Linked DNA regions of Homo sapiens. The protein of the gene in region 2 interacts with the protein of the main gene of each other region in a pairwise test. Each region holds a gene or a part of one and is shown on either strand. Other genes may lie near its edges.

The links. The genes of interacting proteins can lie anywhere in the genome.
Region 1: the proteins of SHTN1 (region 2) and DSCAM interact in a two-hybrid assay, tested with the Homo sapiens proteins (one large-scale study listed by BioGRID and IntAct).

Annotation. Positions count from the first base shown.
Region 1 is NC_000021.9:40,837,044-40,840,699, forward strand, and holds part of DSCAM (cell adhesion molecule DSCAM isoform CHD2-42 precursor), read right to left. Parts: intron 1-3,656. UniProt on the Homo sapiens protein: Cell adhesion molecule that plays a role in neuronal self-avoidance. Promotes repulsion between specific neuronal processes of either the same cell or the same subtype of cells.
Region 2 is NC_000010.11:116,998,580-117,002,235, reverse strand, and holds part of SHTN1 (shootin-1), read left to right. Parts: intron 1-3,656. UniProt on the Homo sapiens protein: Involved in the generation of internal asymmetric signals required for neuronal polarization and neurite outgrowth.

The DNA of each region.
Region 1 (3,656 bases), on a different chromosome or scaffold from region 2:
ATCCTTACCTGGGAAGGCCCACATAGAAGGATACTAACTAATGTTCAGCTTGAAGTGTCAACAGACTGTGGTCTACCTCTTATCCTGATGTAAGGGTGGAGGGGATGTGTGGCTATGGGGCTGGCACAGCCTCTTCCTCCATATTCAGTGTTCCCATGAACATTTGCCTCCGCTGCCTCCAAGCATCTAATCCCACAGAAGCCTACAGCATATTCTATATTCTTACTCTCCCATCCTCAGCAATGGGGCGGTAGAGGTATGGGGGAGAGTGTGGGGCCCCTCGTGCCTGTGATTAATAAAGGCTGATGATGTGAGATCCCCCAAGACACAAATAAACCAACCACTGATGAGAGTTCCTTGCCCAAAACAAATACCTAGATCACCTCGAGGTCCACATTTTTCTACCCAGATTTCTATACAAATATTCAATGAAGCCTATTCTAAAACAGTAGCCACCAAGGATTTAATAGCTATTGATTTGGGTGAGTCATAACAGACACATCTGGTAATTAACCATCCTACCCACATTCTGCTGTCACGTTAAGGACCCGGATAGAGGTTGCTAACTTGGGCTGCCAACTTAAACAACTTGTGAAAGGAGGATTCTGTCTGTTAGACAGCATTCCACATTTCTTGTGCATTTCCTTTTCACTAGCCAACGAAATAGACAAGTGACTAGCCTTTGCAGGAACTGACAAGAACTAGATCCGGCAGGAGTGATAAAGTAGTCATGGTTCCCGTTTTGCTGGTAGAGGCCATTGTTGTCATTGTTGGGTGTCTTCAGCTCATTCCTAAAGTCTCACAGGTAATATTCCAAAGCATTGTTATTTCTACCCTGCAAGCTACATATCAGTTATTAAAAATGCTCTACAGCCGAGATTAAAAAATAAACATGGCAATTAAGCAGACTGGGACTTGGATTTTCTGTATCTCTATGGAACCCAAGATCAAATCACACCACAGCGGGGCTAACTGTGAAAAGAATTGAATCTTGAGTTTCTCTCGTGAGAAAGTATATTTCCTTAAAGTAATAAGTTTCCTTATTATATAGGAAATATAGCTGTCTTTTGTATTTAAAAAAATAAATTAAATTAAAATATACATAGAATTGCAGCAGTTCTAATTATCTTTCTACTTGTCTTTCTCTTATGATACAATCACAGAAATGTTCCCATCATCCAGCAGTTCATGCTTATGAGAAGAATCAATGCTTTACTCAATATTAGGAAGATTAATCAATGGTAAGAGAGTCCACTGCAATCACCCACCTGAAGTGGCATGGATGGCTCTTCAGTATACGGCATGGGCTACCTCCCAACAGCCCCCCTCAGCCCCTGTGACCCATTCACGCTGGTCCTAACACCAGCTTCTACCTGATCATTGTGGTGACTCCATGATAATGCTGAAGCCACTTTGGGACCCTCAGGTCATCAAGGTCAACACTGGGAGTGGTATCACCATACTGCTGTTTTGCAGAAGCATCCAATAATGAGAAAGTTGGGATATTTAGAAAGAACTATAAGCTGGCTTTTACTGTTTTATTTTCAGTGTGAAAAAAGTGTAAATTTTATGTAAAACCAGACTTAAAACTGTTTCCTGTTTCTTCATTTTAATACTAAAAGAGTCAAGGCTTGTATGAATCAAAATCAGTAATTAAATAGTTCAAATTTCTTTCCATCACCTTATCAAAATGCCAATTTCATAGTCTGGAGAGACTAGCGACAAAATGATCCATTTTATAGATGGTTCTTTATAAGACAAAAGGCAAACACTTTCCACAGCATCATCTTCTAGGGCAGGTCTGATTTTGTCCAGATTTCCAACCTGTAAATCAGCAGTATTTGCATAAAAATTCAACGATTCTACTATTAATAAAACCCAAAGCCCACTTGGAACCAGGAAAACCAGAATGCTATAAGTAACAAATACAGGCCTAGAAAGGAAAACTATTTCATTTCTTTTTTTATGCTAAATTGTATATACTTAAGGAACCTGGGGGACATTAGCTAAGTGATATATGCCAGACACACACATACAAAATCCATGATCTCACTTATATATGGAATCTTATAAAGACTATTTCATTTATAAGAGCATGTGGCATTCTTTTTCCCTTGTCCAATAACATTTGTGTCAATCACAAAGCCTGGGGTGATATTGTCTGCCCGACACAGACTGACAAATAAGGACTTCATATATTGCAATTTAAAACCCCAGAGTTTGAGAACAGGTTAACATGGAGGGACTTGTGATAATCACAGGATCCTAAATTTGAACTCTTCTCTCAGTAATTGCTTTATTACTGAGATGTATGCAGATTTCACCCTCCTACTATTCTGCCGTGAAACATCTTTAAGAAAGGCAAGGCTTATTGCAGAATAAATATTTGTAGCAGTGCTGCAAGTTCAATGTCCTCCCTTCACCTCCAGTCTTTTGTTCAGACCTACTCAAGCTGTTTCCAGATAATATATATATTGCCTTCTCATCCCCAGCTTCCCAAGCCTAACATAGACTTAAAGACTGAGAGCACTTCTAGAATATTCTGCAGAGAGTCCAAAGAGATTTCATAATATTTCTGCAAGGGTTGGTATGCTTTTTTTTTTGTTTTTTTCTCCTACAAAATGCTGTACAGAGCTGGGACGTTAGGGGAAGCTAGCATTTAGTATGGAGGTGATCTCTTGCATTTTCAATTCTTTCTTTCACTGTCTTTGCGGCTGCACTTAAAAACAGCTTTCTATAAATAGGACTGCTTGCTCACTCTTAAATCTTACTCACTGTCTTCTCAGTAAAAAAAATAACTAGGGATACAGGCAAGATTCATTAATCCCTGTCATTCTAACTCTCTGTGTAGTAGCCTCTTTCCTTCTTCATATCTTGACATATATCTTCTCAATCCCATTCATCCCTCTCTGTTAAACCATAATATGTATTTACATAATCCAGGGGGCTTCAAGATCAAAAATTAATCCAGTTGCATGATTTTTAAAAAATCAGCGTTGATCACATAGAACAAATAGAGATGTCCAAAAATCAAAAGCTGATAAATATTGTAAGCTATAAGACACTTAATTTGATTTTTATATTTGGACAAAAATCAACTTTAACAATGATTAAGATATCCTTTCATGTTACTTTGATGAAGATAGCAACTGTCATATTTGAATCTGCAAAATAAGAAATAAAGATAATGACAAAAAACCCATAAATCCATAGGATGCTGAAGAAAACAGTAGTATGACTTTTTAAAGATGAATTAAGGCCTGAGAAAGTAAGCTTTGTTTTGATGTCCTGGGTGGCTCTTTGATGAAGAAATGAATTCCCAAGAGCTGGGGGTGGCGGAGTGGGCGGGGAACCTAAATGTCGGTTTGATGTTTCTGGCTGGCTTTCAAAATGCGACAGGGCAATAAACACTGTATAGGAATTTTAAATCATGCCATTTAGCAGCGTACACTTGAGAACAAGGGGTCCAGCACATGGATGAAATTATTGTCTGTGACACTTGACCCACTGCACGGCAGGAAGAGCACCTAAAGCAATTACATAGCTGTTGTGCAACAGTGATGAAGTCCCATCAGATACTCGAAATATGAATCTCTTTTTGAAAAGAGAAGAAAATGCCCCAAGCCACAGGCGTTTCTGGAAAATAAACATTTCTA
Region 2 (3,656 bases):
CAATTACTTTTTTATTCTAGGATAGATTCTTAGAAGAAATGGAATTGTTGGATTAGAGGGCACGGACATTTACTTTTGCTAGACATTGCAAAAGTGCCCTCCAAAATGATTATACCAGTTCAGATATCCTTCAGCAGTACCCATTTCCCCACACATTGGTCAACTCTGGCTAATAGCAATCTTTATTCATTTGATGGCCTGACAAGTTTTTGAATTTTTGCCAATCTAATGGGCAGAATGTTACCTTTTAAGATTTGCATTGCTCTGGTTATTAGTGATGTTTGAAATCTTTTTACATGGCCATTGGCCATTTAGGTTTCATCATATGGGTCCTTCCTTAGTGATTTTTTTTTAAACTGATACATGAGACTTGTACATATTTATAGAAGACATGGGGTATTTTGTTACATGCTTAGAATGCATAATGATCAAGTCAGGGTATTTGGGATATCCATTACCTCCAGTATTTATCATTTCAATGAGTTGAGAACATTTCAAGTCCTCTCTTCTATCTCTTTTGAAATATATAATACATTGTTGTTAACTGTAGTCACCCTACTTTGCTATCAAAATGTTAAAACTTACTCCTTGTATCTAACTATGTTTGAACCCATTAAACAATCTCTCTTCATTTTGCCCTGCCTTAGTAAGTTTTAAGTCTAAAACTTGAACCAGTTCCCCAGGAGAGTGTTCAGAAAGGAGATTCCTGTCTACTCTAAACCACAAAGCTGACAGCAGCCTTCCCTAACGTGAAGCCTTTAGTGGTGTGGTGAATAAGGTTGCTTTTGACAAAAGTTGTGAAATGTAATGACGGAGTCTGTCATAATATGAACAATCTCTAATTTATACTTACCATTCCCTAAGCTCTATGTCTTATAAATCACACCCACTTCTGAATTACTTCAAAACATTTTATGTTCCCTCCTAGTGAATGGTATAATTAGCTATATTATGTCTTTCCAGAAAGTTATATTATGTCCCTTTAAAAAAAATTAGCCAGTGTGTGATTGCTTATGTTCAAGCAGATGTTGAGGTAATGAGGTAATTCTCCTTTTGTCTTTTTTGGGGCTTTATTTTATTGGACTGATTGACATCTTTAATGCACCGAGAAATGGCAACTTTGGATACTATTTCCGAGGCATATTTCCTAGCTACTAAAGTGGATATTTCCCTTACAAAACATCATACAATTTGCTCCCCCTCCGGAATTCAGTGGGAAAATGATAGACTTAGTTCAGCATTTGTTTAAGGTGCATGATTTTCTGTATAATTCATTCAGCCCACATGCATTGAATATTCATAGCCAGGCACTGTGCTAGGCATCAGAGAGATAGAGCTGAATAAGACCTTGCCTCTGCTGGTGAGGAGTTCCTGGTCTAGAGATAGTGCTAGGCATGTAAATTCCAGGAGGAGTGTCTGATTGGCCTAGTTTGGCCAATCTCATGTATTCAAATACTTTGGCCACGGGAGGGCAGGATACTTTAATTGGCAGCCCCTGCAAAGATTGGAGGAATAGTCCAAAACAGAATGGGGTGCACTACCATGAGGATGCTGACCGGGCAGACACAGACAACACATGTCTGCTAAACTGTTCAGTGTAGTAATGCCATGTCATTTCCAAGTTGATGAAATTTTGAAGAGAGATGGCTATTTAATAATAAGGACATACATAAGAGGAAAACAACCACCACCACCCCAATAATGGGCAATTTTTGGGCTAACAGTATTTAAAATGGATTTCCTATGGTGAGGTAATTGGTTTTAAAGCAATTTTAAACCTCTTTTCACCTTTAGAGTTAGTATCGTTTTCCCCAAGATTATTGAGATGATACTTAAGTTCACATGGAAATCTAGTCAAGCTTATTCTTAGAGCAAGTTAGTAATTAAAAGATGCATCCAGTATTCCATTGGCTTCTAGGCCAGGAAATAACTGGAGCATTATTTTGACAAAACAGTCTGAAACTATTGCCTACCACAATGACCACGTCAGTCTGGGAAAACGGAAGCATTGACAATCTTGGGTGCATATGAGATCAGCCAGTAGAAAGCTGTTTGGAATTAAATGTTGCCTTGTTTTCAAGTGCAAACTTGGTTTTACATCAGTATTTTTCAAAGTGTGGTACAAGGGCCAGCTGCATCTGAATCACCAGGTACTTATCAACAATGCATTTTCCTCTGAAAGTTAGGGAGTGGTTGCTGAAGAACAACAGTTTGGCAACCCCCCATGAGATGAACATGCAGTGTGGGCTAAGGAACTATGTCTTCTAGTCAGAATTTCACTATTTCCTTAATATTATTTATTTATTTATGTATTTATTTATTTGAGACAGAGTCTCACTCTGTCACCCAGGCTGGAGTGCAATGGCGTGGTCTCGGCTCACTGCAACCTCCGCCTCCCAGGTTCAAGCAATTCTTCCGCCTCAGCCTCCCAAGTAGCTGGGACTACAGGCATGTGCCACCACACCCGGCTAATTTTTGTATTTTTAGTAGAGATGGGGTTTCACTATGTTGGTCAGGCTGGTCTCGAACTCCTGACCTTGTGATCCACCCGCCTAGGCCTCCCAAAGTGCTGGGATTACAGGCGTGAGCCACCGCACCCAGCTGTGAACCTTTTTTAAAATAAATGCAAAAATAAACACATGCTCATAGAAAACAAGTGTGTAAAGTGAAAAGTACAATTAACTATTCTATCTGACCCATTGTTTCTCAATCTTTATTTCATTATCACTCTCCTAAGGAAACTTTTTAGGCGTTTTATGCACTGTGACTCTTTGAAGGGCCATAAGCCATTGTAATATCCAAGATCTTTTCTCTTATCTCCTTGAGGATGAAATCACTACATTGACAATGCATGCTATGACCCCATTCCCATTTCCCAAAGTTAACTACTGTTAACCTTTTGTTTTCTTTCCTTCCAGAAATTGTGTTTGTATGTGCATATGTATTTATCATGTAATATGTAATTTTTTATATTAGTACATGTAGCGTTGTCATTAAAAATTGATTAATGTTCCAATGTACAGACGTACCACAATGTATTTAATGTCCTCTGGATGGACATTTCTATCTTTCTTTCCTTGTTTTTGCTATTACAAATAATGCTTCTGGGCTGGTTGTGTTGGCTCACGCGTATAATCCCAGCACTTTGGGAGGCCAAGGTAGGAGGATACCTTGAGCCCAGGAGTTTGATACCAGCCTGGGCAATGTAGTGAGACCCCATCTCTCTAAAAAGAAAATGCTTTTGGCACTGGATTCATGTTGGAGACATCAGTGTGAACTCATGTTTAGCTTAATACAGGTATGGATGGTTACACATATATATATATGTTGGTATATACATATATTTTCTTGCTCTGTCAGCTGAGAGAGCCTAGATGCACCAGTATCAATGAGCACATCTAGAGCCCAGAACTTGGCTTCTAATGCCATTCTCGAATAAAACGAACAGGGTTCCTAGGAGAAATGGCTAATTTTAGGAAAGGGGCAGGAAATATACAAGATGAGCCTAGGGCATCTTGTAGTGTGGAAACTAAGGAAATGCACCAACTGATAAGCTGACATTGATGGAGATACTGTAGTCCCTGCTTACCCATGGAGGAAGCTATGTTTCAACACCTGCAGTAGGTGCCTGAAATCATGGATAATAACAAACCCTA